Linked DNA regions of Homo sapiens: region 2 is linked to region 1. Evidence: fine-mapped expression QTL. A gene starts in region 1. The other region holds a variant in brackets. All regions are shown on one strand. Distances are from middle to middle.

The links. PIP is the estimated chance that this variant, and not a neighbour inherited with it, causes the effect.
Region 2: its variant is fine-mapped to the expression of TMEM14A in aorta (GTEx, PIP above 0.99).

Annotation. Positions count from the first base shown.
Region 1 is chr6:52,662,107-52,678,264 of GRCh38, reverse strand. It overlaps TMEM14A (transmembrane protein 14A), which reads right to left and starts at 7,152. Exons shown (of 5, transcript NM_014051.4): 1 at 7,020-7,152; 2 at 1,093-1,178. The coding sequence starts at 1,162. LOC730101 (a long non-coding RNA gene) reads right to left here and starts at 13,864. Exons shown (of 3, transcript NR_024405.1): 1 at 12,846-13,864; 2 at 11,747-11,876; 3 at 9,112-11,516. RefSeq lists enhancers at 2,447-3,007, 7,288-7,447, 7,436-7,936, 13,289-13,408, 13,780-14,074 and 1 more and a silencer at 13,780-14,074.
Region 2 is chr6:52,714,512-52,730,669 of GRCh38, reverse strand. No RefSeq gene overlaps it. Among named protein-coding and RNA genes, the nearest start is that of GSTA2, 41 kb to the left of the region's middle. RefSeq lists silencers at 6,015-6,064, 8,113-8,227. The variant T/C (reference allele first, on the strand shown) is at 7,817.

The DNA of each region.
Region 1 (16,158 bases):
GGCAAAAATGCCCAGATGTTCTTTTCTGTTCTGTAATAGAAGTTATTTAGACATTGTCTTTGACAGTGAAAATTTTTTTTCAAAAACAATCTTAGCATTTTAAACTGAGTTCTTTCTAAAGTAGATTGTGAAACATCAACCTCTGAGTACTTGGTTTACAGGTCTTACTTTGGTGCCATCATCTTTTTTTTTCCTTCAAATACACATCTCTAATACATACATTAAGACAGAAACAACGAACAAAAATCCAAGGTGAATTACAGGCTTTAAGGAATCGTAGATGATGGTCAATTCTACCTGCCAGCCCCCCAGCTACAAGAGCTATACGGTGCTTCTGGTCTTTGACTTCTTAGCAGCCTTTAAGGAAGGAAGCTAACTGGTAACCATGTAGACCTGGCTTTTTCACTCAAATTCAAGTCAACCACTGCCACAAATACAATACCCTTTGAAATAAAAAACTTCATTTAAAAAATGTCATTAAAACGTAAGAGACAGTTTGTCAGAAAGATGACTAAAGGTTGTGTATATATATGAAACATAACTAGGAGACATCATAACTATAAATGATTCTAAAATAAAAGTAAAATAAAAAAATTTGACCTTTCCTTTTTCTCCATGAAAACTCTTTAATTGATTACCTGAGTTTTTTTCCCCCCTCTTTTGGACAAAGGTGAAGAGACAACTTTGGATATGATAACTGAATATTTAACAATGTTTTCATTACAACACACAGGATCAATATAACTCAGTTTTTTGGTACCACGATTATGTAAAGCAAAAAAAAAAAATCCTCATTTAATAATAAGCAGTGGTCCTGAGGGAGATTAAATCAATTAACTATGCAACTGATGATGAAGTGAAGTGAGAGTTTTGTGGTGGAAGAGAGGCCCAGAACCCCCAGGTTGGAACACTCTGTCATGCTCAGCCCCACGGAAGCCTCTTCCTTTCATGAGTCCCTTCCAAGACACGCTGGTCTTCAGCCACCTCTAAGGCATCTTTAGCTTCTCATCCTACTTACAGAGCCTCACATGACCTAGCACAACCTCCAAACCCCCACTAATTCCCTTTCATGAAAATTTGGGTTAGGCTTACCTCTCCGCTTATATCCAAAAATGCTTCCAAATGTCACGAGGGCTGCATAACCAAAACCGATCAGGTCCATTGGCAAGGTTGCAATTCTAAAGCAAGGGGGAAAGGACAAATTATACAAAATAAAAAAGTTTTGGGGAGGGAATGTATCTAAAAATGATACGCTTATATGGTTTGGCTGTGTGTCCCCACCCAAATTTCATGTTGAATTGTGATCCTGAGTGTTGGAGGTGGGGCCTGGTGGGAGGTGACTGGATCACGGGGGTGGCTGCTAATGGTTTAGCAACATCCCCCTAGTGCTGTTCCATGATCTAAAGTTCTCACAAGATCTGGATGTTTGAAAGCGTGTAGCACTTCCCCCTTCACGTGCTCTCCCCCTCCTGTCGCCATGTGAAGACATGCTTGCTTCCCCTTTGCCTTCCACCATGATTATAAGTTTCCTGAGGCTTCTCCAGCCACGCCTCCTGTACAGCCTGCGGAAGTTGAGTTGATTAAACCTCTTTTCTTCATAAATTACCGAGTCTCAGGTAGTTATTTAGAGCAGTGTGAGAATGACTAATACAAAGACATTCCACAGAATTACAGAAATTAATTTCTCTAGTCTACTAAAGAAAGGGAAGTTCGGCCAGGCATGGTGCTCACGCCTGTAATCCTAGTACTTGGGAAGACCAAGGCAGGTAGATGGCTTAAACCCAGGAATTTGAGACCAACCTGATCAACATGGCAAAACCCCATCTCTAGTAAAAATACAAAAAATTAGCTGGGTGTGATGGCATGCACGTGTGATCCCAGCTACTCAGGATGCTGAGTTGGGAGGATTGCTTGAGCCCTGGAGGTTGAGGTTGCAATGAGCCGTGATTGTGCCACTGCACTCCAGCCTGGATGACAGAGTGACACCCTGTCTCAAGGGAAAAAAGAGGTTCAAACTTCACCTCTCCCAACCCTCTACTTTCCCCTTCATCCTCATCACTGTTAAGCACACTCTGGGGGGTACCTCAAGCTGATTCTCCTCTGCCTGTCTTCAAGATCTGCCATACTCTCAGCTGTTCAATTCTTTCCACTTACCCAAATAAAACTTCTGCTCTGGTCAGCCAGGTCTCTTCACTGAACTGTGACACTACAATCTTCACTTTTCACTTCCATGCCTGAAATGTCCTCCCTCCCTGTCCACCTCCAAAAGCCCGACTATCCCCTGTATGCCACCTCCCTTTAAACCTTCTCCCCTGACTTCTACCCTTATTAATTACCTCCTAATTTCCTTGACTCTAGTCTGTACTATCAAAGTGATCTGGAGCAAATGCCTTCTTCCTCCTCTAAATTCCTTAACTTCCACAATTCCATCTTATAATTCTTTCATGTCTGTACAGATATTAGTCCTCTCATTCTTTACAGATGGATGTCTTCTTGGAGATTGACTAATTCAGTTTAAACAATGGCTTTGTCATTAGTTTCCTTGCAAGATAGCTCTTCTGTGGTAGCAGAGACATCCACACTTAATCAATGGCAAATCACTAAAGAATACAATATAGCCCCAGCATGAAGTTAAATGGATGACAATGACATCCTACTGTGCATCATAGCAGCAGCTGAAACATACCCAGTGGTGAGAAGTTCCACTGAAACCCTGCCCACAATTCTCTCAGATGCAGTAGATAGCGTGCCAGCCACAGGCTAGAGATGTGGCCACTGGGCCTCAGACCATGCCCCTCCCTCACCCTCAACTCTCCCTGCAAGTTAGGAGAATAGATGAAAAGAGTTCTGGAGTTCTTTACAGCTTTTTAAGTTCTAAGACCCCTAGTGGTGCCTTTATTTCTGAGCTTTCTCACGTCTATATTTCTTCCACAGGGAAGGTAATTATCTTTGTAAATGTGAGGAATGGTAAGTGAGATTCCTTGCATATTTTTACAATTTTCTCATTGCTTATCATTTAGGTTAATGGGCCTTTTATCTCCCATTATCAATTGGTAATAAATTAATGTAGAACATAAAAAGGGGCCAGGCGAGGTAGCTCACGCCTGTAATCCCAGCACTTTGGAAGGCAGAGGCTGGTGGATCACTTCAGGTCAGGAGTTTGAGACCAGCCCAGTCAACATGGTGAAACCCCTTCTCTACTAAATATACAACAAATTACCCGGACGTGGCATGGTGGTGCATGTCTGTAATCCCAGCTACTCAGGAGGCTGAGACCGGAAAATCCCTTGAACCTGCGAGGCAGAGGTTGCAATCAACTGTGATCGTGCCACTGCACTCCAGCCTGGGCGTCTCAAAAAAAAAAAAAAAAAAAAAGAAGAAGAATTTTGAGCTGATCTCAGAGTCATCCACTAGAACTTACTATGAGGAAGGGTATGGGGGAGGGAAGCTGAGGCACAGGAGATGACAGCACCAAAAAGGAGGCAACACTGAAAAATGCTCATCATCTGCAGGAAGGAGAATTAAAACAGGAGAGCTCATCTGTGGCCGAGAAGTGGTACAGTAGGATGTAGCATGTAGGGAGAACCTGGGTCCAAAAACCATTTGCTGACTGAATGATGGCTAAACAAATAATAATAATAAAGAGGTTATAATGTTTTTGAGCAATTACTATGTGCTAGGTGCCATTCTAAGGCATTCTAGGTGCCTTATGTGTATCAACTCATGTAATCATGACCACACCCTATGGTATGTACTGTCATGATTATCCTCATTTTCCAGATGAGGAAAGTGGCACACAGAGAATGCAAGCAATGCCTGAAGGTTATACAGCAAAACAAAGATCTCTGACTTAGGGAAGTCTCAGTCCTAACCTCTATGCAACATCACCTCTGATAACTGAGTTAGCTGCTGAAAAAAAGCGAACATGTAAACCAAACATGTTCTTCAGAGTTTTCAATTCTGGATCAATCACATGCTCTTCATAGCTTAAAGTTGTGACCACAGGGCACTGTGTTCCATCTGGTAACTTACAATGTTCAGCCCCATGAACTTCTCATGTTTGATCCTACTTATTATCTTTCTAAAGGAGCTAACCATATGCTATAAAGTATGCTTATCTTCAAACCTGATACCACCACTTACTAGCTGTGGAACCTCAATAACTCAGTTTCTCCATCTTTAAAATAGGGATAACAAAAATATCTACCTTATAGGATTGTTCTGAGAATTAAATGATTTAATACTGTAAAGCACTTAGAACAGTGCCTGCACATACTGAGCACTCAACAAATATTAGCTGCTCCAATGATTACTCTTCTCATTCACCCTTACACCTATTTTAAGCTTGACATGTGTAAGGCTATTACTATTTCAGCACACTGAGAAAACTGAGGTAGGGTGAATTTGTAATTTAGTTAATGAATCATACCATAGTATTATAACATATATTTGTAGTCAATTCGACTTAACAGCTATTTATTTAGCATTTTCTTTAGGCAAGGCAGCAGGAAGCAATGGTAAGTGCTAAGACATGGCCTTGGTCCTCCAGGAACTATAGTACAACACAGCTGTAGGAGGCAGATGTGTGAATGAGCCCTAAGAGGAGAGGTGTGGGTACCATAACAAGGAGTGGCACCCAGCAAGGACTGGGAGCCTAAGGATGCCCAGATCAAACAGGGTCCCAGCTGGGACCTTGGAGAGATGTTGTGCCAAACCCCTATTAACCTCAATAAGGAAGGCAACAGGTTCAAGAGGCCAAAAGAGACCCATTAGGGGCTTACAAACAGAGGAGGGAGTCCAGTGGTGGTGAGCTGGGCAGGAAAACAACCGCTTGCAAACATCATGCAATTTATGCAGCATTTTCACTTAACACCCTCCCCTCAATGACCTCTACCTGGCAACTTGATTTAACTCAAAATTCAAGGCCTCAATTCCCCGTATGGCCCCTGTTCTATGGGACAGGTGGGGCAGGGGCTCAGATGTTCTTCATAGACAAGAAATAAATCTCTGGGTTGGGCAGGCCTGGGTTCCCTAGTTCAGAAAACACATTCAGGTTCATCTGCCACACAGGGTCATTCTAAGGGTATGCTTTAATTATTGCTGTCAGGTGCATTTACCCTACAGGGGAGCATGAATAAGTCAAGTGAAGAGGGTGCAGGGAAGGGTGTTCCTGGCAGAAGGGAGCGCATGTGCAAGGCCCTAATGGCACAAGAAAGCATGTTCTCAAAATGAAAAGTGCAAGGGGCTTGTGAAAAGAGAGGGTGCTGGTGAGAAAGACAGGGCTGTACACCCACATAAGCCCCGTAAAGGGAGTCTGGTTCCGTCCTAAGGGCAATGAAGGATCACTGAAGGGAGCCTCACAATCAGATTTAAATTCCAGCAAGCACTTCCCAGTTGCAGTAGTGAAGATGGGTTGTGAAGTGAGGCAGGGAGATAAATCGGGAAGCTGTTGCAGTAAAGTAAGCAAGAGCTTAGTTGATAACGGTAGGCTTATCTAGAGAAATGGCAATGAGAATGGAGAGAAGGTGGACAGATTTCAGAAGTTCAGGAGGTAGAATCAGAATTGAATTTGAGGCGGGAAGGGAAAGTCAGGGGTGAATCAGAGATGACTCACCCCTAGGTATCTGGCTTAGACCATTAGGAGAAGTAGGGAGTCGGGGAGCCTCATGCTATTCCCTGAGACAGAGAACATGGGAACAGCAGCAGGTGTGTGGCGGTGGGAAGAGGGAGGTGGCTAGGAATGATGGGACCTGTTTAGAATGTATTCAGTCTGAGACGCCCAACACACAGTCCGGAAAACACCCTTACATACAGATCTGAAGCTTATGAGAGTTCTTTCATTATCAGGTGTAACTTCTAGACCTAATTTTCTCCTAAAGCTAAGTAGCTGTTGTGAAAGATTAATTCCACTCCATCCTGAGCCCCCCAGCTCTTCCTGCGATCTTCTCTTGAGGACCCATACCCTTTTACTTGGTTGGGATTCTCTCAACTCTCAGCCAGCCAAGCTCCTTGAGGGCAAACCAAGGTTCAGTTTATCTTTGTCCTCCTCACAGCACCAAGAACCCTGCCATGCACAAGGCAGGTACTTAAAATACTTGTTAAATGAATAAATGAGTGAGTGAACCAAAGGAACAGCTTCTGCCTGAAGACATTCTGTAACTGACCTACCCAATACAGCTTTATTGCCAGGAAACAGGTAGCCCCTTAATCTCCTTAGCGAACTGACTGTTGTTCTAAAGAGGCAAAATAAATCTACTCCCAATGCTTGCAAGAAGATTCTGTTCTCACAGAGAATATTCAGACAAAAGAATCACCTATTCCATGACGGAGCCATGTGGCCAGGCCAGAAGCACACATTAAAGCCAGAGGCTGTGTTAACATGGAAGGGATAAGGTGGGAGAGGATGTGCACAGCACATCACACGCTCTCATCACAAATGTGATGCTCAAGCCTTGGAAGGACTAAAACGCATCTTGGATGCAATGCAGCAAAACGATTTACCATACCAGGTACAAAACAAGGTGACAGGGGACAGCCTCGCTGCCCGCCCCAAATCCTCCAAAATTCGGAGAATTAAGAGATTTTCGGTGAACTGTTACATAAAAAGCATTTTCACATGCTAAAGATATAACAATTACCTACCCTTGAGCTCTTGGAGGGCACAAAAGGCACATTTTCGAGTGGGGTCTGGGTGGTGCTGAGAAGGTTAAAATCCTGCCAAGCATTTTGCAATGGTCCATGAGCCCACCCCACCACCCCAGATCCAGGAAGGTAGGAGGCAGGATAGGTGGGATATTTAGGGATACCAGAAGGCAGAAACTCGGGAGGAGGAGAAAAATGATACCGCGGAGGTAAGACCGATGCCCTGCAAAATCCCCTCAAGGTCCTCTGCATCATCGTTTGCTGTACAGGTTTGGCGCGGGGGAGGGGATGCCCGCTAAGCAACGCCCCTTATATTTCTGCAGTTTTGTAAGAAAATTCAGAGCAGGAAGGTCTCCATTGCGGGATGCACAGCTCACCTGCAGCCCCGAGCCTTCACTGCAGCTGAAAAGACAGAAGTCTGGGGCCAGCTGCCGCCAAGCGCGGTACCTGGAGTCCGGAAGCAGTCTCCGCACCAGCGCTGTCCCACTCGGCGCCCAGCCGTCTCGCGCTGAGCAAAGGCCGCTCCCTCCTGGAAACGCCCTCCCTGCCGCGCGCATGCGCTGTGTCCCTTCTCGCCTTGCAGGACTCCACCCGGTCCATGCCCTCCGGCTGAATCCGGGCGGCCTGTAGGCCAGGCAGCCAGGAGGCCCTGTGCTGCAACATCCCGGCGGCAGCCGGACCCGTTGCTCCGTCTATCCTGCCTTCGGCCCTGTCCTGGAGCCAGGGCTGGGGTTTGCTGCCTCCCGCCTGACGGAGCAGGACTGGCAGGAAGCGTGTTTGCAAGAAGCCAAAATTACAGAAGGCGAAGATTTTTAAATTAACTCCATTCATCTTTCAAGGGACATTTCCAGAACCTCCAAAAGGCAACCCGAGGTCTTCTACACACCCTCCAGCAGACTGTCCCCACTGTCAGTGGAGGGAGCTAAGGTTCAGTGAGGTCAAGTGACTTAGTTGTCCCAGGTCAAAATCCAAGTTTGCCTGGTGTCAAAGCCCAAGCACCCTTCATTACACTATGGGATCATCTAGATGTGGTTGGGAGACGAGGATCCTAGTTTTAAACTTCAGGCCCAGGATTTGCTGGGTTTAGATATCTACTGGGAAAGGTATAGAATTCCAGAGTTGGAAAGCACTTAAAACCTTGCCTAATGCAAGGCAATCCGCTCAATCCCAGGAACGAAACTTAAACTGACCTTATTTTTTTTTTAAATACAGGATCTCAGTCGGTCGCCCAGGCTGGAGTGCAGTGGCACCATCCCGTCTCACTGCAACCTCTGCCTCCTGCCTCCTGGGTTCAAGCGATTCTCCAGCCTCAACCTCCCAAGTAGCTGGGATTACAGGTGTGTGCCACCTCACCCGACTATTTTTTTTTTGTAGAGACGGGGTTTCACTGTGTTGCCCAGGATGGTCTTGAATTCCTGAGCTCAAAGCAATCCTCCCGCCTCTGCCTCCCAAAGTGCTGGGATTACAGTTTAAATTGACTTTAAATTATGCCTCCCTGTAGCAACTTATCATCTCAATCTTCTGCCTTCTTGATTGAATACAGAACTCCGACCCTCTTCCTTATGTAACAGCCCTTTGGAGATTTGAAGAAGGTTGTCATAGTGAAGTAGCTCTAGAGGTTCTGTGTCACTGAGAATTACAGCGGAATTCCTCAGAATAAAAAAGGAAACTCAAAAATTAAATCTTGTGAAGTTTGTTTGCTACATCTATTCTTTGTGCATAAAAGTGCTTCAGGGAAGTAATATAACTACATCTAACTTATGAAAGTCTAAGTTGGTCCTGGGGAATTAATAAAATTCCTGAAGATTCACAGAAGAGTTGATGGCAAGGCACTGGAATGTGGCGTGGAGAAAGTGATAGCCTGAAATTTGGTTCTGAGTTCTCTCAGCCCTCCTTTCCATCCCCTTCTATGCCCATCCTTACCCCAGCCTCCTCACCTTCTCTCCTCACACTCTCAGAACACTTACCCTATTTGGAATAAAACTAAAATCCTCTTGGAATACTTCATTATCTTCATCTGATGTGACCTGGGTAAATAACTCCCCTCTGGACCTCAGTGCCTGGATTTAAGATATGGACAAGACTAGATGCTCTGAGATCCCTTACACCCTATCACCAACATACTCGAAGCTGGAAACAGCCTCATGATATTCCTACTCAAGGCGTATCACCTAAAACTAAAGAAAAACTCTTTGAATATTATGGGAATTCCATACCCTTGAATATGTGGGAACAGGATGGTTCTTAGGCAAAGGGACCACTGCCCTCTCAACTCATAGGCACCAGCTGCTGCCTTCTCCAGCTAATGGAAAGGCTGCAGCCCAAGGTAAGGATGCAGGAAAGCCTATTCCCCTCAACTGTTTTGTAAAGCTTTCTATGCATGATCCACAGCAGAGACTCTTAACTTTCAATGTGTCACCAACCTCTTTGGCAGTCTGGAGAAATGCACAAAATAAAATACACAGGATTGCAAAGGAAGCCAATTTTATTGAAATGCAATTTCATTGAAATCAAATTCTTAAACATTTAAATCTGTCACATAATAGATGTGCTTCTTTATTAACATATTAAAGATTACAAGACCTAGGGGGTGGATCTAATTATTACCATAATTTCAGAGTGGTGCTGTACATAAATATTTTAAGATATCTGTAACGTGGATATCTGTGATTCCTAGTGATGACAGAGACACAGGTACTAATACTGCTGTGGTTTGTTGCCTATTTTCCTGATGGAAATAAATAAAAACTTTTTTCCATCGAAGTTTTCAGATTTCCTGATTTCTATCCTCTGGCCCCTTTAGATTCACAGATTCCAATTTAAGAACTCCCAGTCTATAATAATGCAAGTTTTCGTAAGTTGTACATAGATGGAATCAGAGAAATGGAAGTAAGGTGAAGAGCCTCACTGACTGGCTGGCTGCTCAGGCAGGGCCTCACGGGATGGTTACACCCTGTGGATCCTGAGCCTGCTCCTCATTTTCAAATGTTCAGAAACTCAGTTTGTCTCAGTTCTTCTGGGGGCACCCTGGCTTTTGAGAGACAGATTCATAAAAATCAGAGTCACAAGGGACTTACTGATTTTTTTAAGGCCCACTTCAGATTCTTGATTTTTTTCTCCTTTCAGATTTCAAACAATGTCAAAGGACATTATTCTTGTCCTTTGAAAATATGATCTTATGGCAGGCCAACATTTTAGCATCGTTTCTATGGCTCACTTACAATGACAGCCATCTTGCAGGCACACGTCTAAAGAGGTTACCTTCCATTTCTGTGAAGTCAAAAATCTCCATAAGTGCTTTTGCACTTTTTGAGGAAATTGAAAAGTAACCAAAAGCTTTCATTATGAAAGTCTCAATGTCACATTTAAGCAACTCACATCCCTTTTTAGCAGTGTTGTATATAAGATGTACAAGGCATTGAATGGATAAGATCTTTTCATTTTCTTTGGTAAGAAGTTTGTAGACTGAATGCAATTTGCCAAAATTTTACATCTATACTGTCTGACGAATACACAGATAGATGAGCTAAGTCTAGTTTGTATTTAGACAAAATATCAACAATATTTTATGATTTCAGCAGTTTCATTAAAATCCTCACAGAAATGAAGAAGATGATTTGAAACTCCTGTTTTCAAGTCAAAGTACCTAACAGCTAGAGGGAACATATTTTTGCTGCCATGATTTGGCATATTACTTAAAATTGATGTACTGTAGAAACCAGGATTGTTGGTGAGATATGACAGAAATTGGCTTTATACTGTAAGGAGCCAACACATCTGTTATCAAAAAATTTCCCTTCTTCTTTGTCCAGAGGATATTTTAGCTGCAATTCTTGAATCAGGAAATGAAACTTTACTCAGTTTCATAGAGCAATCAAGGGAACGCTATGACAATGCAGGCTTATTTGCCTGGTATGCCCATGCTAATTCAGCAGCTGCTATTTTTGACTGAGCATTGGTGTCTTTTGGGGAAACAAAGGTATTTTTGATTGGTTTAGAAGCATTCACCTGTCCCATCTTACTTGTGAGATTTGCCCTCCATATGTGCTTGCACATCCCCTTCTCCACCATGTCCAATCTCAAATTTTTTTCTGTATATTATGTAGTATGCTCTGTTTTGGTTATTTACCTTCCTAGTTCAGTAGTATGTGTCCTTCCATCCATCATCAAAATTACATAGTCGTTTAGCCTTCTTCTTCAGTGATGGGGTCATGGTTGCATTGGTATTATAACCATTCTCATTATCTGACCTCTTAGAAAACATGGTCACAATATTCACAATGTTAAAAAATTAAACTAGCACTATCTTGTTACAAAGCACACCAATTAATCCACAGGCAAAGTCGAAGATGAACTATTAATAATCATTATATACACTTAAGCCACATCACTTTGAATGATGCAACGATGGATGGATGACCATTCTGAACTACAAATTATGGTTGCCAGTATCAGTGGTCAAATGGGTGACAACAAGTAAAGATGAATAATCTGTGCCGTATCCATTTGATAGACAATGTTGCTTTCAGACCCTCTAAAACTTACGGGTTTTGTGCATTTCCTCCAACCTTCCACACTTTGTTGCTAAAACCAGGATTATTTACATTCCAGGGAAGGGTCTCCCAGGACACAATGCTCTCAATGCTAAAATGGGATGGTTGGTTACCCTATTGGGTTGCCATTAACCAAAGGGCTACCTCTCCAGAGGCAGGAGGGGAGGCACATGGAGGTAGAGACTCCTCACCTTGCTTCCACTGATGGTGTTAAATTTCTCCAGAATATTTCTCACAGGTTCCTCTTCTTTGGGGGGTGACGAAAACAAGACATTGTCTTTTGTTAGACTTTGGATCCACTGAAAGTTCAATGGCCTCCATCTGGAAACACAGGCAAAGCTCAGGGCCAATGCCTTCCCCTGGCTCAGGCCCTAAAGGGAACTCAGAAAAGGCGGCCCTCCAAAGGCAAGAAAGGAGGTGAGAGCAGCTCCACTGACAACTCCACCAGCCAAGGAAAACAGAAAAAAGCATCCACTGGTGGCTGGTGGGGAGCATAAACCATATCCTGGGGAGAAATTCACCTCCCCAAACTCACCAAAGTACTCCCTTACCTTCTCCTCAGTGGCTTTGGGAGTTCAGGTGCCCTGCAAAGATTTTCTTCACAGGATATTTCTTCATGACAGTGGCTTTTTGGGGGTCCATGCTATGGCAGCCCAGCCTGTGCTCCTTCTGCTCTAGGATCTGTTCCAACAGAAGGGTAAGTGGATCAATCATCCAGATTTGCCAAGGACTAAGGGGTTTGGGGACTTTCAGGGCTAAAACCAGAAGTAAGGAGTTTCCTAGGAAGCAGGACTGTCAGTGCTAAAACCACAGCTAAGGGATTTCCCAGGATGAGGGACTTTTAGCATTAAAACTGGGACGGTTCAGTTTCCCAAGATGTAAGACTTTCAGTGCTAAAACCTGGACAATTTCTTCTGAGAAGGGGGTTAAGTAGACTCTGGTTCTAATTCTGTTTGGCATTTCTTAGTAGCATTACCCGAGGCAGGTTCTTTCTTTCTGAGCCACAAGATTCTACCACAGGTGGAATACACAAACTACAGGTGCACAAAATATTTTATCCCCTCCAAACACACCACCCTCTACCTAAGCCTGACTTCCCAATTTTCTCCAAAACAGAAATCCACCTGGTTTACCTCAACACATATAAATCGGTCCTCACTCCCTCTGAACCTTTTGTCCATGCTCTGAGTTTTCTTCCTGGCCTGACAGTCCCAGTCTAAGACTTGCTTCCTCCAGACATAAAGCTGCGCTACAGGGTTGGAATCCTTGCTGTTCCACGCTTTACTCACTATGTGGTCTCTTCTAGTTGCTTAATCCTCTCTGCATCTTAGTTTTTCCTTCTGTAAAATGGCACTGAAATGCTTATCTAAGAATCTTTGGGTGTTTTTCTAATCCTTATATGTGAAGCATTTAGTGCAGGGGCCCAAACAGGTACTAAATGTCCACTCTCCCCTTCCTGGACCACTCCCGCCCATATATTTAATACTTTTCACTTCCCACTTAATCCATACAGGAACAAGTTCCTAAACTCTGCTTCCCCCAGTGCACTTGGCCACATGCAGCTCAGACAAAATGATCATGATCCAGGAATGCCTTCTCTTGGAAATGCAATCCTGCACACACAGACCTTTGATGGAATACACAGCTTACCTTCTCTACGGGGGCTGCAGCTTTCAAGATAGCAAACGTCAACCCTCTTGGTCTTCCAGTGTTGGGATTCATTTTGGGGGATGGTCCACGACCTCTTCAATTGTGGTGAAACAGTCTTTTGGGTCCTTTTTGCTGGTATCCCAGCTCTGGTTCATTGGTGAGACGAACGGTAGGGTGAGACACATGGCCACGAGAAGTCTTACGACAAAGCCATGCGCTTAGAAAGTCTTACAAGAAAGGCAAGAGTTTGGGAGGGCTGGATTTCCCAAAGCTTTCACTGGGAGGATTACAAATAAAGCTACCACCCATGGCAAAGTGTCTACACCCACCCACTCTGGGTCTGCAAAGATTCTACCTCCGACAGCTGTTCACAAATCTACTCTACCTCCTTACTGAGATCCACCTTGGTCCTAACAGAACTTAACATCACCACAAACCCCCAGGGTGGGAGAGGAAAAGGAAAGGCAACCTCTCAGGGCGCAGGCCCCATGCACTCGTCACAGGTGGAAGTTAGTCTAAAAACCCTCTTATCAAAGGGCTGTCGTCTCTTCTATCCCTGTCTTCCCCGGCGCTTAGGTGTCGCTCTCAAGGAACTCGGTCTTCCTGGGCAGAGCCCGCGGTCAGATCCTGACTCCGAGCCCAGGTGGAGGGAAGGAGAGAAGAGGAAGGGAGGGATGGGAAGCCTTGCCCGGGTCGGAGCGCACATCCTCCTCCCGAGTCTCCGCTCTCTCCCCTGGGCGGCTCCTGGACGGCGCAGACGTCGATCCCACAGGTCCAGCCAACTCCCACAGCACCTGCCCCGCGTCCCCCTAGTTCTTGCCGCCGTTCTGGTTGGCCTTGGCGCCGTTCTGGCCCCGCCCCGGCGACCCGCCGTCGGCGGCTGCCTCGTATGGGTTCTCGGTGGCGCCCGTAGTCCCCAAGACCTTCTTCCTCTAACTTGCTTCTAACACACCCGGCAGGGGAGCAACCGCCTCAGCCTGGGACAGCCCGGCTTTGTGGGAGCAGCGGGCGCGCTTTATAAGGTCCGAGTTAGGGGACGGACCCACCTTGCCCAAACTACATGTTTATTGGCTAGTTTTGCCTGACACTCAGCCAGGCACCGCTGTCCCATTGGCCGCGCTCTAAATCCCGCGGATTTGTCCTCTAGCAACGTCTCAGAGCCAGGACCCTGGAGAGGGTCCAAGAGATCCCGCGGAAGGATTGCAGGGGCAGGTCCAGGGCCAAGAGGCTCCCATGCGCCCTCCGCCCGCCGAGCCCGCAGCCTCTCGACCCCGCGCGTCTGTGTCAAGGCATGGCCAAAGTGAGAAAGAGCCAAGACAAAACAAGTTCAAATAGCAATAGCAAAACAACCAAAAGGAAATTCAAGGAAAGCAAATATAAATGAGAAAAATATAATTAAGCAAAAATGAATGTTCGCAAAGGCAAGACAAAAAACCAAGTCAAGGAGTAGGTTCAAAGAAAAGATGAAACGTGAATATAATTTAGGATATTTATACCGATTCCTATTGAAATCTCGACAAGTAAAAATTTTACTGTCAGTGAATCAAACTTTCATCCTTCTTGCCTTTCCTATGAAAGGGCAGCAGGGGGCACTAGATGCTAGGGTTTGATTCGGCTAGGAAAGGCGTTTTAGCACGTTATTTGCAAACACAAAATAGTGTTCTGTTAAAGTTCAGAGATAGTTATAAAAGTTAACAGGAAGTGGGGAAACTAGAGTGATGGTCTACAATCTGGGATGTTAAAGAGACTGAATACAGTCACAGGTTCTTAGTTTCTGTTTCTGGCTGGGCCAGTAAAGCCCCTTCCTCATCCCTCTTTTCAGCTTCATTAGAGACAGAAACTAAAAACCACGGCTTCAGGCTGCTAAAAGCCTAAAACAAAACAAAACAGAACAACAACGACAACAGAATAAGGCGGGTTGGACAAGCTTAGTACATAGAAGAATGTGCGAAAAAGGTATATGATTTCTGTACACCCTGTTGGCTAAGTAGTACAGTGTCCTGAAATACTGGGAGGGTGGCAATTACAAAGAGTAAGGGGCAGTTTTTCAGAGGTGAGCTCTGAAAAAGATGCAGGACAGTGGAGAGTGACCACCAGGGCGCCAGGCTGACTCTCTGTCCTCAGCCTGCCATATGGACCCGTTTTGAACTTTTACCAAGGCCATGGGACTTTCCATGCTAAAACCAGGACCGAGGGTTTCCCAGACAAGGGACTTTCCTATAAGCAATAATGGTTACAATAACAACAACAACAAACAACAAACACTTAATGAGTACCTATTGTGTGCCAGGAACTATTCTAAGCATTTTACAAGTATCAACTCTTAATCTTCACAACAACCCTTGAGGTAGATACTCTATCCTCCCTACCTTACAGAGGTGGAAACTGAGGCAACTCACCAAAGGTCATGCAAACAGCTAAGAAGTGTCAGATCCAGGCTTTTTGCTTGTTTTTTGTTTTTGTTTTTGTTTTGAGAACGGAGTCTCACTCAGTCTCCCAGGTTGAAGTGCAGTGGTGCGATCTCAGCTCACTGCAACCTCTGTCTCCCAGATTCAAGCGATTCTCATGCCTCAGCCTCGCGAGTAGCTGGGATTACAGGCACTCGCCACCACGCCCGGCTAATGTTTGTATTTTTAGTAGAGATGGGGTATCACCATGTTGGCCAGGCTGGTCTCAAACTCCTGACCTCAAGTGATCTGCCCACCTCGGCCTCCCAGAGAGCTGGGATTATAGGTGTGAGCCACCGTGCCCGGCCCAGATCCAGGTTTAAGAAAAGTGTAGGTGTGCAGGCTCTGCTGTCATTCTGTCCGGGTTTAAGTCAAAGCTCCACCACATACATTAATACAGGAAAATACATAACATTATGACTAGCACGTAAGAGATACTCAATAGTATTTGCCATTATTATTAAAAAGAGTTGTCCCTGGTATCCAGAAGCTTAAACTTTAGTGGAAGAGGTTCATAAGAGTCTTAAAGCAGTAGTAGTGCTTATTGGATGGGTGAATGGAATAGATAATAAATGCATATAAGCATCCAGAGGAGGAACAGTTCTGAAATAGAGTGGTCAGGTATTCAATGTGGCACCCATTTAAAATTCTGCCTGAGCATCCTGCATGTCACCATTAGAAGGCAGCTTCTGCTTCTCAACAGCTTGAGCTAATCATTACAGTCTTGGTATTTGATGATCACAGGCATGTGTATGTTTAACTAAAATATACTCTTCTGGGCTTTTTTTAAGAGACAGGATCTCACGCTGTTGCCCAGGCTGGAATGCAGTGGCAAGATTATAATTCACTGTGGCCTCAAATTCCTG
Region 2 (16,158 bases), 52 kb before region 1:
ATAAGACTTTTTTTTTTTTTTTTTTTTTTTTTTAAGACGGAGTCTTGCTCTGTCACCCAGGCTGGAGTGCAGTGGCACGATCTCCACTCACTGTAACCTCCACCTCCCGGGTTCACGCCATTCTCCTGCCTCAGCCACCCAAGTAGCTGGGACTACAGGTGCCCACCACTAAGCCTGGCTAATTTTTTGTATTTTTAGTAGAGACAGGGTTTCACCGTGTTAGCCAGGATGGTCTCGATCTCCTGACCTCATGATCCGCCCACCTTGGCCTCCCAAGAGATAAGACTTTTAAAGCCGAACCCAGTCATGGGTTTGTGTCCTCAAATACCTGTGAGTTGGGTGATCCTCTCCACTTGAAGTCCCAAGATAAACTCAGAGCTTCCAGACCTGTTAGAACATGACGTTCTTTACTGACCACAGAACCTGTGCCCTTTTAAAAACTGAATGTTGCGTATGCATCCTAAAGAAGCTGAAGTTAATAAATTCCTCTCTCATTTACAAAAGCAATTACAGCTAATTGGCCACAGGGTGGTTGACTCCTAGTGGTCTATATCATGGTCTGGGGGATGCAGTCCTTGGTGGAAAGCTCTCTTAGTAAGGCTTTTGGGAATTGGTGATTTTAGGTCTTGTCATGTGCATCTGTATTTACTGTTGGTGTAGGTTTTGTTGGCAGTGTTTCATAAACTTAGGGGCAAAGGACCTTATAGGAGATCCCACCCTTTTCTGCCTGCTTAGGAAACATCACAAAAAAGGTGGCCCTGTGAAATTGTAAGAGCCAGTCAGAGAGGTAGACTGTAGGGTCCTCCAGTTCCCTTGCTTTCTTTCTGTGTCCTGACTGCAAATCAGAGTGCCTTGGCCACTCCATGACCCAACCAGCTGCAGGTTTTTCCCAGCAGGCTTAAAGCTAAACCAGGGCCTTGAACATTTGCAGACACTGATAAAGATATCTAGGTTGTTGCTCCAAATACAAAAAGAAACTGGTCCTGGTTCTGAGCCAAACTCCTTAAAGTTTCACATGGATTCCATACCCTGACCCCCTCACTGCGGACTTTTCTAGGTAGAACATGCCTTTTCTTTCATCTGTCATGAGGACTGCTGCAGTACTGTAAGTTCCCCTAGTAAATGCAGTGGACTGATCAACTTAGCATTTAGTGCTTCTTTCTTTGGAATCCCAACTGGCCCACCTCAGAATGAAATTGTGGGAATTCACCTCTGCCACTTTTGGGGTAGTCCAGCCTTCAGTTTGGTGGGATGAAAAAATAAGTAGTAATAAGAAATGATCTCCTTATAAGGACATCAGGAATTGGATTGGGAGCCACCCTTATCCAGTGTGACTTCATCTTAACTAGATTACACCTCCAGAGACCTTATTTGTATCTGGGGTTAGGACTTGAACATACTCAACATACTCTTCTTGGGGAACAAAATTTAACTCACAACTCCATGCTAAGGGATGAGATAATGCTGGGGGTGCACCTGGTCAGGCCACCTCAGCTGGACTCCATGGGTCAGAGGTGGATTCTCAGGGAGGGCAGTCATATCTGACTTGAGATTTGCAGGCAAGACGAGTTGCAGTTATGAGGTAGAGCTATAGTTGGGCAGCAGGGGTGGAATCCTGATGGAGGCTCAGCACGGTTAATGGTGTAAAAGAGAGAGACTGAGCAAGGTGTATTCAAAGAAAGAGAAGACAGTCTGAGTGAAGCATTAAAGCACGAGGTAGCAGGAGTGATGATGAGGTAGGATCCGGGAACAAGGCCCGCAGGCCTAAGGACTTTGAAGGCCATGACAAGAAGTTTGAATTTTGTCCTGAGAAAAGAGGGAGCTGTGGAAGTATACAACTTGCTTTGCCAAACTGGCATCAATAAAATAAAATCACAGCTTTTAAATATTCATTTTCAGTCACTTAAGCATCCATCTCAGAATAGCAAGAACATTCTTTCCCTCTGGGAGTCTCTTTCCTATGTTAAAAGATAAACGTAGGCACATTAAAATTTTAAAGAGTTTATTTTGAGCAGACAGACATTCATGAATCGGGCAGTGCCAAACCACAAGCAATTTGGACTTCATGGAGGGGGTGTGAGGGGAGAACTTTGATAACGTGTTTATGGAAGCAAAACAAAGAAAATATTTGCTTGGTTAAGGTGAAAAGTCACTAGTTAGAAGTTAGTTGGCAGTTTCTGATAGGTTAAGTTTAAGTTTCTTGTTTTCCTAGGATATGACCTTCATGCTGAGTTGAGCTTTAGCTTGCTTACATAAGACTCAAGGCACTGGGGACATCTCAGCCTACTGGCCTCCTAATTAATTAATACCCACATTAAATCCAACAACCTAGGGGCTTATTCCATTCAAGGAGTCAAGTAGCCCTGACACCAGTAGAAAATTCTATCAGTCTCTGCTGCTATCTGCCACATGGAGTTCCTGTTGTCCCATAGACTTCATGATCTGAGGCGGTTTGGTTGAAACACTGGCCACAATTTGTCCACATGAGTCCCAGAATCTTCATTCTCTGTCCCTTCACAAGAAGAAAGAGGAAGTCTCCCTCCCTGCTATCCCTCAGGCCTGGGATCTCAAAATGTAGGTGGATATATAGAGTCATTTTTCTCTGGCATGCCACTGTCCAGGAGAGATGAGGATGGAGCAATTTCTAGCTTCAGCCATGTACTAAGCCCATAACTTATGCTTCCCCAGAAAATCTAAGATCTAGGGGGTTAGACCCAGGGCACTGGTCCCGATTGCACATTTTCATAATGTGAGCTTTGCCACAATTAGGTGTGTTAGGACAGACAGAGACATGGGACTCATGGCTCATGTCTTCTACGTCTACTGAGGGTTAGGTCAATTCAGACCAACCAAGATATTCCAAGATATCTTCCTAAGAGTTTCCCAGTTCCCTTTGCACATTTACCTGCTCCCTCTTCAGCAGATAAATATCCCAACGGTAGACTCTTATACTCTCACTCTGCAATAGAGTTTTCAACCTGATCATACCCAGCCTTCCCCAGTTTACAAGAGATATTTTATAATTTATTATTATTATTATCATCCTGAAGTGAACCTTGTAAGATTTACCTCACAATGGTTGCTGCTGGGAATACAAGATGAATAAGGTATAATAATCCTAGCCTTTGAGGGGTGCATAATTAACCCCAAGGAAAAAGATTTGCATATAAAGAATTACGAGTCAATATGTAAATTTGTATTAAAGAAGTTCCTGCAGGTGGCAAAATGACCACTCAAAAAGAGTGGCTGAAGAGGCCAGGTGCAGTCGCTCATGCCTGTAATCCCAGCACTTTGGGAGGCTGAGGCGAGTGAATAAGTTGAGGTTAGGAGTTTGAGATCAGCCTGACCAACGAGGCAAAACCCTGTCTCTACTAAAAATACAAAAATTACCCGGCATGGTGCCGCACACCTCTAGTCTCAGCTATTCTGGAGGCGGAGGCAAGAGAATCGCTTGAGCCAGGAGGTGGAGGTTGCAATGAACCAAGATTGTGCCACTGCACTCCAGCGTGGGTGACAGAGCGAGACTCCATCTCAAAAAAAACCAACCAAACAAACAAAAAGAGTGGCTGAAGAAAGTTTAATGAAATACCTATTGTATTAGTCTGACCTCATGCTGCTACGAAGAAATACCCAAGACTAGGTAATTTATAAAGGAAAGAGGTTTAATTGACTCACAGTTTCACATGGCTGGACAGGCCTCAGGAAACTTACAATCACGGTAGAAGGCACCTCTTTACGGGCAGCAAGGGAGAGAATGAATGCCCAGAGAATGGGGAAGCCCCTTATAAAACCATCAGGTCTTGTGAGAACTAACTCACTATCATAACAGAATGGGGGAAACTGCCCCCATGATCCAATTATCTCCACATGGTCCCTCCCATGACACATGCGGATTATGAGAACTACAAGTCAAGCTGAGAATTCGGTGGGGACACAGCCAAACCATATCACCTATTTACAAACTGGGGAAGGGTTAAACTACTACAACGGATGATGAAGCACTCTGGGGCTCTCCTTTCCCTGGCCTTCATTGAGACAAGAGCAGAAAGCAGTTCAGGGATCTAGGAAAACACTGAGAGTCACAGCTGCAGGAAAAGTCTGCACCAACAGGAGCTGATGGCTTTCATAGAGAGAGATCCACTGTCAACCTAAGTAGCCCTGAAGACACGGTCAGTTTATAAATGACTGGACATTATGACAATAATTTATTACTGATTTGCTATAAAGTGTTATCCATTTTATGCTATATATAGTTTAGCATAGCTAGAAAATAAAGGGAAATTTATTTTTAATTTTGGGTATATATACAGATTTATATATTATATTTACCATACCAGATGTTAAACATTCTGACTATCACTCCTGGGTAGTCTGTGACATAAAAGTATGAAGATTTTTGTTAAGAAGTAATTAACATTTGGTATTTAATACTTACACCATCCGCCATTTTAATAGTGAGTTTATATATATATGTGTGTGTGTGTGTGTATAACTGAAGTGGATATTAATTTCTCTGCACTGGGGGAATTGGGTCAATATTTGAGCCATTAGGTATACTGACTTGCCAGTTTTCTGGGATATTCTTGAAGAACAAATATGTTTTAGCAACATTCTGCCAATTAGAGCTGCTTAGATGAGGCAGCTGTGAGTCAGCACAAATTTAATCTGTGTTGACTTTGCTCTGCCTTGCCTCCTACCTTTCTCCAATCTTTACTCACCTTCCCTCTGCACACAGCAGCTGTTTCAATATATTTGTCCTTTGAAACTTTGAATACAGTTGCAACATTCTAAGTCAACAGGGCAGCTAAGTATACCTAGCAGAAAAATTAGACTTTAACCTCAGAAATTGACAAAATCTTCTCAAGGATTATGGTTCCAATAAATACTGTTTAAAGTATTTTATTCATAGTTCTATTCAATAAAAGTTTATAGAGCACCTACTTTGTTCCCTGAATTGTTTTAGGCACAGAGAATGCCAGGAAAGACTAAGTCCTGAATGACAGGAACCAGAAGATCCAGTGAGCGAGGGTCTTAGTCAGAGGGAACAATGAGACAGGGTGTTGGTCAGGAACAAGTTGGGTGTGTTTTAGGTACACTAGTGTTGTGGGAGCAAGGCGAGGAAGTATTGAAAGATGAGGCCAGCATGGGTGTATTAGTTATCAATTGTTATATACCAACTCACCCCGAAGTTTAGGGACTTAAAGCAATAAATATTTATTATCTCACACAATTTCTGAAGGTCAGGAATCTGGGAGCAGCTTAGCCGGGTGGTTCTGAATCAGCATTTCTCAGGACGCTGCAATCAAGTCACTAACAGGCTGTGTCAGCTGAGGGCTTGACTGGGATCTGTTTCCATGATGGCTCACTCACATGGCTGTTGGCAGAGGCCTCAGTTCCTCTCTGAAAGTTGGCAATACATCTCACTTCTTTGGCATGCCTGCTTCTGTGTAGGACTGCTTGAGTGTCCTCAGGACATGGCAGCTAACTTCCCCTGGAGTATGTAAGCAAGAGGGAAACTACAATGTCTTTTATGACCTAGTATTGGAAGTTACACCTCTGATGATAGAGAAGGGCTGAGGACATCGCCTCGGGGGAGATAGCAGTTGGAGAAGAGAAGGCTGGGTGGAGCCAGCGAAGGCGTCTGAAGAGGAGGGGTCAGTGAAGTAGAAGGAAGTCCAAGAAAGTGTGGCATCATGAGGCCAACAGTCCGGCAAGAGGATGGAAGAGTGGACATTGAATTTGGTACCACGGAGGCTACTGCTGACCCGAGGAGAGAAGATGGGGACACAAGCCTGACTGGAGTGGGTTGAGGAGAAAATGGGACGTGAGGTAGAGGAGACAGCAGCTACCGGCAGCCGTTTTGAGAAATTTTGCTCCGAAAAAGGGCATATGGTTGGGACAGTAGACTTTCTCAGTGATCTAAAAGAGGAAGGGAAGGTTGAGTAGGCTGAGCTCAGTTTCATTTGCAATTGTGGAAAGTCACCTAAGAGTGGCTGAGTCTGTGCACTGAACTCTTTACAGCCACCAGGGAGGTCCCTTGGCTCTGGGCAGTGCGCCATCTGGTGCTCAGTCATGGAGTCAGCGTTAGACTGACACAGTAGGTTGGGCAATCCCTTTGCTGGAACAGAGACTTTTTTTCTCATAAATTTTAAATCCAAGTTGGAGTAAATTGCCAAAAGAACAACTAAAAAATGCTGACTGAAAGGCAGAGGTGCAAAGTTCTCCTCACTTCCTTTTAACCCCTTCCAATTTATTCCATTTTGTCTTTCTTATTCCCTCATCCTCTTCACCTTAATCCATGAGTCTCTCTGTATTTCCTTTTCCACTGTCCATTTCTATGACGCAGAATCTAACGATGCAGCTACAAGCCAAGAAACACCAAAGATTGCTGGCAGCCACCAGAAACCAAGAGAGAGGCTGGGAACAGATTCTCCCTTAGAGCTTCCAGAAAGAACCAGCTTTGCTGACCTCTGGATTCTGGACTTCTAGCCTCTAGACATGTGCAAGAATAATTTCTGCTGTCTAAGCCACCTAGTTTGTGGTAATTTGTTAGAGTGGCCACAGGAAAAGAATTCAACTACTTTGCAATAAAAAAAGGAATGAATACATAAAAAAGCACAGATGAATTTTGAAATAATTGTGCTGTGTGAAAGACACCAAACAAACAAAATACCTGCTGTATGCTTCTAATTATATAAACTTCTAGAAAATGCAAACTAACTCATTGTGACAAAAAGCAGATGAGTGGTATGGGGCCAGGCAGAAGAAAGGGATTTCCAAAGGGCATGAGGATGTGAATAAGTTCAGTATCATGATTATGATGATAGTCTCATAGGTGTATATGTGTGTTAAAACTTATCCAATTGAGGCTGGGTGTGGTGGCTCACTCCTGTAATCCTAGCACTTTGGGAAGCCAAAGCAGACGGATCACTTGAGGCCAGGAGTTCAAGACCAGCCTGGCCAACATGGTAAAACCCCATTTCTACTAAAAATACAAAAATTAGCTGGGTGTGGTGGCACACTCCTGTAGTCCCAGCTACTTGGGAGGCTGAGGCATGAGAATCACTTGGACTCAGGAGGTGGAGGTTGTAGTGAGCTGAGGTCACACCACTGCATTCCAGCCTGGAGGCAACAGAGCGAGTCTCGTCTCAAAAACAAAAACAAAACTGAAAAACTTATCCAGTTGTACACTTAACTCTGTACACTTTGTTTTTTTTTTGAGACAGTGTCTCGCTCTTGTCGCCCAGACTGGAGTGCAGTGGCCTGATCTCAGCTCACTGCAACCTCCTTCTCCCAGGTTCAAGTGATTCTCCTGCCTCAGCCTCCCAAGTAGCTGGGATTACAGGCGCCCACCACCACGCCCAGCTAATTTTTTGTATTTTTAGTAGAGATGGGGTTTTGCCATGTTGGCCAGGCTGGTCTCAATATTTCATATATATATAATATATTGCATATAATACATTATATAAAATACACATATATTTTAAAGTATCAATTATATCCCCTAATACAGTAATAAAACCAATAGATGCAAATAAACAATCACAAATCTATTATGTACATAAGCAAGCTGTACAATCCTTCTGCTCTCCAGCTGGTCTCTTCAGCTGCCTCTGTCCTTTGGAAGGCTTCCTTCTGCTTAGAAACAGGCCCAGGCCTCCACTGTCCTAACCTTCTTAGCCATGCACCCACACTCCTCAGAAGAAACCAAGAAACACTCCACAACAAATTTTTAAAGTTCTTTATCCTTGGCTAGTTTTCCCTTTTGCTATTTCCTTCTTTCTTTTCACGTCCAAAACTTGAGTAGTCTGCATTC[T/C]AGCTCTACTTCCTCTCTCAAAGTCTTGAATTTTAAATTCTTTTTTTTTTTTCCTTTGAGATGGAGTCTCGCTCTGTCGCCCAGGCTGGAGTGCAGTGGCACAATCTCGGCTCACTGCAAGCTCCGCCTCCCAGGTTCTCGCCACTCTCCTGCCTCAGCCTCCCGGGTACCTGGGACTACAGGCGCCCGCTACCACGCCCGGCTAATTTTTTGTATTTTTAGTAGAGACGGGGTTTCACCGTGTTAGCCAGGATGGTCTCGATCTCCTGACCTCGTGATCCTCCAGCCTCAGCCTCCCAAAGTACTGGGATTGTAAGCATGAGCCACCACGCCCGGCCAAATTTTAATTTCTTAATCAATGAACTAATCATCTTAGTTCTATGAGTTTCAAGGTCTTTTCTCAGTCTATCTTTAACTTTTATACTGCAAATACCAGGCCAAGCTCCCTTTCCATCAGCAACTTTCTGCCGCAGTCTCCCACCCTTCACCAAGCACTAGTGCTCAGATTTTCCTGTGGCTCATTTTTTCTTAGTTTCATGATTTATATATCTTCTTTGCCAACATGTTGTCACATGGATCCCACCCAGTCCTGCTTCATGTCAAAAGGCCAGGATTTTCTTGAAATAAATAACAAGTTATTAAGGACAGCCCTCCTGCCTCCATAGCACAGTCCTGTGAAGAAAGCTATGAAAAGATTACCGAGGCTGACATTGGGTAGTGAACACAGTATTTAGCAGGGCAACTTGGATGTGCCTCCAGAATGGCATGACCACTATTCCACTCATTGCACTCCACTCCTTATCTTGAAATGTTCTCCCCACTGCTCTCTGCCAGTCTGTATCAACTTCTTCTCCATCATGACACCTTCACAAATACTGGACATTCCAACAAGGGGTCTTTGTAGATCTGTGTTTCTTTCCATGCTGCTCCCACGTCCTCAAGTGATAGTTTTGTCATTCTAATATTGGGGAAGATATGGAAGAGGATGGCAGTAGTGGTGGAGAAGCAGCTCTCACACAGTAGGAAGGTGGCTATTACGTATTGTAGGTGAAAGCCAGGACTCATGCATCTGAGATGAGGATGCACTGAAGCTGGTTAAAATTCTGTTATTATACATCCTCAGCCTATTGTTCTACCTCAAGACCCATGCATGCTTTCTTCTAAGGTTGCCCTCAATACTGGTTGTTCTGGTATTGTAAGGAAACAAAGAAGGAAGAATCAAGCATCAAAACTCAACACCTCTAGTTCTCCCCTTTAGTTTACAGATGAAAGCACTGGGGTTCAGAGAGGTTGAGATTTATCTAAGGACACAAAGCTGATCAATGGTAGAATCAGCCTAGAACCCAGGTCTTCAGAATCACTAGCAAGAGCCTTTTCCATTTATCCATTGATTCAGCAAATAATTTTTTTAGTTCTAATCTATAAAATGTTGCACTAGGACAGAGATACAGTGCTGAACAAGATGGGACAAAGGCCTTTGACCTCAAGGAATTCACATTGTAGTGGGAGGAGACAGACTACAAACAAAAAAGAAAGAGTGATAAATATCTCAATAATTATAGCCTATGATTGGGATGTGAAGAAAATTAAGCAGGGACTATGTATTAGACTGTTCTCAGGCTGCTAATTAAAAGACACACCCAAGCCTGGATAATTTATAGAGGAAAAAGGTTTAATAGACTCACAGTTCCACATGCCTGGGAAGGCCTCACAATCAGGGAGGAAGGCTAAAGGCATGTCTTACGCTGCAGCAGTCAAGAGAGAATGGGAACCAAGTGAAAGGGGTTTCCCTTTATAAAACCATCAGATTTCGTGAGACGTATTCACTACCACGAGAACAGTATGAGAAAAATGCTCCCGTGATTCAGTTATCTCCCAGCGGGTCCTTCCCACAACATGTGGGAATTATGGGAGCTACAATTTAAGATTTGGGTGGGGACAGAGCTAAACCATATCAGACTATAATAGAGAGTAGTTGGGGAGAGCTTTACTTTAGATGGATGGTGAGGGAAACATAAAAATTGAGAGAAAACTAAGTATGCAAAGAGATGGAAGGGAGGTTTTGGGGCAAAGGAACCAGCATTTTCACAGGTTTGAAGAGAGAAAGTACTCAGTGTCTCTGTGTACCCCAAGCCCCTGGAGCTTGGCTGAAGAGTAGAGGGCAGAGGTGTGGCTTGAGGAGGGGGGTGGGAGGTGGTAGATGACTCACTGCTGTAAGTCCCGTCAAGGAGTATGGATTTTATTCTAGGTGAAATGGGAATCCAAAGGCTGGCCCTCTTCCATGCAGATTTTGCCCAGAAGACACAGTATTTTGGGAGGTATGGTTCCACACTACAGCTATTTGAAAGCATAACTGAAACTTATGAGGAAAAATCCATCTGCTTCTGTACCAAAAAAAGAATGAAGATAAAACTGAAAATCAGTCATAGTGTGTGGATTTGCCAAACTAAATTAAATTACTTTTCTGGAGTCTAGTGGATAAGTGTCTTAGTCCATTCAGTGGCTGGAATAAAATGCCGTAAACTGAGGTGTTTATAAACAACAGAAATTAATTTCTCACAGTTCTGGATGCTGAGAAGTCCGAGGTCAAGGCTCAGGCAGGTGTCTGGTGAGGGCCTGTTTCTTCGTAGACGGTGTATTAGTCCGTTCTCACACCACTATAAAAATACTGCCCAAGACTGGGTAATTTATATAGGAAAGAGGTTTAATTGACTCACAGTTTCACAAGGCTGGGGAGGCCTCAGGAAACTTACAATTACAGCAGAAGGCAAAAGGGAAGCAAGGCCCTTCTTCACATGGTGGCAGGAGACAGAAGTGCAAGCGGAGGAAATACCAAACACATAAAACCATCAGATATCGTGAGAACTCACTCACTATCATGAGAATAGCATGGGGGAAACTGTTCCCATGATCAGATCACTTCCCTCCCTTGACACATGGGGATTACAATTCAAGATGAGATTTGGGTGAGGACACAGAGCCAAACCATATCAGACAGTGCCTTCTTACTGAGTCCTCACATGGTAGAAGGGGCCAGCAAACTCCCTTGGGCCTCATTTATAATGGCCCTAAAGGCACTAATTCCATTCATGAGGCTCTGTCCTCATGACCTAGGCACCTCCCAAAGGCCCCACTTCTTAATGGCATCACCTTGGAGATTAGGTTTCAACATATGAATTTTAGGGGGACACAAACATTCAGACCATAGCAATAAGAATGTTGGTAAAATTTCTAAAATAAATGAATTATGCTGACACAAACAGGGCAGCTACTAACTCATAACTATAACTGAGACTGCTATTTGCCAGATACAGCTCACAGAGAAGGTAAATGTCAATCGAAACATTTTAACAGAACAATTTAAATATACTCCAAGAGCATCCCCCTTAAACTCACCAAATCATTTCAAAACTAAAAGCAGACCTGTGAATGTGGTTAATTGCCTCTAATATCATGTTTTATAAGTTAGTATTTTTATGTTAAGTTTTCTTAAAATGAAGCTTCCAGTATAAGGATGCCTGTTTGAACTTAAACATATGGTCCACACACATACACATACATGAAGAAAACGTGTACCAAATGTTTAAGGGCTGAATTGCACTGAATTATGAAGTTCCATGATTTAAGATTCACAATTTTAAAACATTGGATTAATATGTAACATGTCATTGGGACTTCTTACAAAAAGAATTGATTTTGCTTAATTTTTTTTCAATACAGTTTAAATAAACTAACTTGTTTGCTTATCTAGCTATCTCCGATTATTTTACAAAGCTTTATTTTCCACTGTTGGTAACAATTTAGTAACTAGTGCCAAGCAATGTCCTGCAAGGAGAGTGAAGTGCAGACCTTTCTAAGTGAGACCAGTATGTGCCGAGGCACCATCTTCATGGGAGCAAAAAAATCCCACTTTATATCACAAGCAGGATATAAAGATTTTCTATAAACCAGAAAATATGTATTCAATATTCAAGGAACCATGAGCTTGTACTGTGTGCTAGCTTACTGGATTGACTTTTTAATGTAATGGAAAGTCTTTATTCTTCCTCTGAAATTGCCCAAGAATCCTCATTACTAAAAGCCAGTTTGAGTAGAAAGCAGAATGGAGGCATAATGCCAAGATGACTGATGATACATTTCCAGAATCCTAGGCTGAGGATAAACATAATTTTAAAAGGCATGTAATTACTGGTCTATTTAATTCCTTTTATTCTTACACCTGTTAAAGATGGAATTATTGCCTTTGATTTTTTATTTTAGAGGCACACTTGAAAGCTGTGAAATTACCTACTTAGCAGCTTTGCCTGCTTGCTAAAGTTCTTCTGGTTAGAACAAGGTAAATGCAGAGTAATTACTTCTCATCTCTCCTTTTTTGCAAATAGGTAGAGGGAAATGATTGATGTTCATAGTCTATTGAGTCTTTTTTTTAATAATTTCCCTCAAATAAAAGATAGATTTGGAAGTAGTTACAAAAGGAAAGAAAGAGCTAGAGAAAGCTGGTGCAAGATGATATTCTATTAATACCGATTGCTTGGAGCTCTGTTTGATGCCATTTGACTGAGGAAGTCACCACTTTCTCTCAAGCAAAAAGTTCAGTTGTTAAAAATGCAGGAAATATTCTAGAATGTGCTTACTATATGCTTAAAACTTAAGTCACAGATACTGAGAATTATTTTCAATTTATCCTAAGCTTAAAATAAAGCGAGAGCTTACATTAAAGCCAAAATCACAACTAAAATGATTTAAAATGAATTAACCTGATTTATTCAGTTATAGCTAAATACTCTCATTATTCTCTCACCTCAAATCAATAATAGATACTAATTTGAATGAATAGGCTAGAGATTTGCCATTCTATTCTAGATGTATAAATAATTTTTAGAATAATAGACATATGAACACACACTATGAAAAATATATTTCTAAATAAATTAGCAGTCTGTTTCTCATGTTTCAAACTTTCATTTTGAGTTTATTTGAATTTTTTTGGGGGGGAGTGGATAGGGTCTCACTCTGACACTCAGGCTAGAGTACAGTGGTGTGATTATGGCTTACTGCAGCCTCTGCCGTAAGAGATCCTCCTGTGCTCAAGTGATCCACCTCAGCCTCCCTAGTAGCTGGGACTACTGGCACTCACCACCACACCTGGCCAATTTTTGTATTTTTTCTGTAGAGACAGGGTTTCACCATGTTGGCCAGGCTGGTGTCAAAGTCCTGGGCTCAAGTGATCTGCCCGCATTGGTCTCCCAAAGTGCTGGGATTACAGGCCTGAGACGTTGCACTTAGCTTATTTGAATTCTTTGTAGCTCTTTTTTGGTTACATGGTTAATTGAAGTCGTTTCATATAAATTACTTAGTTTTGATTTGTACTTTTATATAATTGTATGTTCTTCAAATTATCAGAATGATAATACATCTTTTTGAAGATGACCCACTCATAACCTAGCTTCATTTTATTTTAGGAGAGAAACACTCAATAAAAGCCCCTAAAAGTCAGGACATTTTGACTTGAAATATTTAATCCAGGCAATAAAGCTAGACACTTGGATTTAGAATTTAAGATTTAGAAAAGCTTCAAACATTGTCAGTCTTGCTTTTTCAGAATAAATCTTATTCAGGCCATCTTTCTGGGATTCTAAAACTCAGATCTCTCAGAGCCTCAGATATCGTTGTGAAGAACAGACTTTTTAATACAAAACAAGATAATATTCCCTCTGCTCCTTGTAATATAAATGCATTTGTTGTGCAGCTTACTTTTTTTTATAATTGATATTGTACAGATTGTTAAAATTGATTATAAGCAATGTCCACTCTGGAAAGGAAACATTGTGTTATAAATGGAAAGAGAGACGAATTGGTTCACAAATTCAAGTGTGCAAGACTGTATATTTCTAAAACTGAGTTTTGTTGTGAAGAACAGACTTTTGAATACAAAACAAGACAATATTCCCTCTGCTCCCTATGATATAAATGCATTTGTTGTGTGGCTTATTTTCTTTTTTTAATTGATATTTTACAGATTATTAAAATTGATTCTAAGCAATGTCCACTCTGAAAGCGAAACATTGTGTTCTATGTGGAGAGAGAGATGAGTCAGTTCACAAATATATTTCTAAAACTGAGTTTAATTTCTATTTTGAGTCCCATTTCATCAGGTAACATAAACCAAATTTAACCCAACTAAATCTGTTGGGTCTCTTCCCCAACACACATGCTCAATTTTTTCTAGGGTTCCATCTAAGTTCCTATCCTGTCCTCAACAGACATCTGTCCACACAGGAGCCTGCCAAGACATTCTCATTCCCATCTAGTCTCTAGGTGATAGTCTTTGCAGATGACTGCAATACCCACTTCATTAACACCACCAGGTCTGTTTCATTTGGAACTGTACATTGCTGGAACAAGGAGAGCTCTGAGGCTGTCTCAAGCCTATCAGCCTAGGCACAGCACCCAGGCATTTCTACTTAATGCTAGTGAGTCATCTGAGTTTTCAAGAAGTAATACAATGTTTCCCATGGTCTCAGATACCCTAAACTGTACTGGGAGCCTGGCATGTCTTATCTGCCTCCTCCAAAATTTGATGAGTCTGATGTGAGAAAAGAGAAGGGTTTCCTATCAACTTGAGTGTCTACAGTCTCTTTCTTCCCCCTGTAACTCTCTTCCTCTACCTCATTTCCAGAGGGTAGCTACACTGTTCACCAATTCTTCTAAATCATTTGTTTTTGGCACTTGCTGATTGGAAATAGCAGTAAATTCTTTGGCCTTTCTCCTAAAGAGAGGTGGGGTATAATTCCCTCCCCTTGGGTCTGGGCTGACCTTGGTGACTTACTTAAAACCAACAGTACCAACAGTATGATGACAATACCACCGTGTGACTTTTGAAGCTAGATCAGAAGAAGTCTTGCAGTTTCTGCTTTGGTCTCTAAACACTCACTCTCCACATGCTTCCTCCAGGACCCAGCCACCATGGCTGTGAGAAGCCCAAGCAATGTCCAGAGGCCACAGATGAGTACTTTAGTCAAGAGCTCCAGCTGAGCTCTTAGCCAAAAGGCAGCATCCATTGCCAGCCTATGAGGAAGCCTCTCAGATGCTCAGCACACACAAGCCTTCGGTTGGTTCCTGTTCCAGTCAACATCTGACTGACACTTCATGAAAGACCTGAGGCAAGAATCACTCAGCCGAGCCCTTCCCAATTCCCAAACCACGAAATTGTGAGCAAATTTAAATGACTGTTTTAAGCTACTGAATTTTGGTGTAATGTTTTATGCAGCAATAGATAATCAGAACATGGAATATATTTTGCACATTTTGAGGCTCAAAATCCAGGCTTTTGCAACTCCAAAGTCTCAGCATTTTCATTTATCTGATACTCGATGAGTTGGGAATTTGCAAACTGATTCATCTCTTTCTCCATATATAACACATTTCCTTTCCAGAGTGGACATTGCTTAGAATCAATTTTAACAATCTGTACAATATCAGTTATTAACTGGGAGAATTAACTTGGAGAGACAATGGGTAGATGGAAATGTGATGAATAGCGTGGGGCTCCAGTGGATGGAATCCTTGGTTGCCTCTAGACATTCTCCCACTGCAAGGGTATGTGTGACATGTTATATGTGAGTGAAGTGTTTTTTGTGTTTCCTACAAAAAGGGATAGGTTTTTATCCTTTAAATAGAAAAAGGCTGGGTGTGGTAGCTCATGCCTGTAATCCCAGCACTTTGGGAGGCCAAGGTGGTCAGATCACTTGAGGTCAGGAGGTCGAGACCAGCTTGGCCAAAATGGCGAAACCCCATCTCTACTAAAAATACAAAAAATTAGCTGGGCGTGGTGGCGCATGCCTGTAATCCCAGCTACTCGGGAGGCTGACGTATGAGAATCGCTTGATCCTAGGAGACTGAGATTGCAGTGAGCCGAAGTCGTACCACTGCATTCCAGCCTGGGTGACAGAGCAAAATTTTGTCTCAAAAAAAAAAAAAAAAAGAAAAGAAAAAAAGGAAAAGAAAAAGATTATTAGAAGGCTGATATGAAAAGCAATATAACTATCATAATTTAGCTATTCTCAGGGTTTGGAGCATGCTGGGACTATAAGAACTCTGCAGTGGCAGGTGGCGGGGAGGGAATCAATTCAGATGGTGTGCACACCCACTTTTGTCAAACACTGTTTAGGGAGTAAGTACTAGGCTTGTAAAGGAACCTTGGAGAAAGTAGCACAGCAATTCAACTGATGAATGAGCAGGTTCTACTCATTTCTCTTTTATAGGTGCTGGCAGATAATGAACAACATGCTTTCCAGATCCAAGGAAGAGTTGATTCATAAGGCTCTTCCCAGTTTAATGCA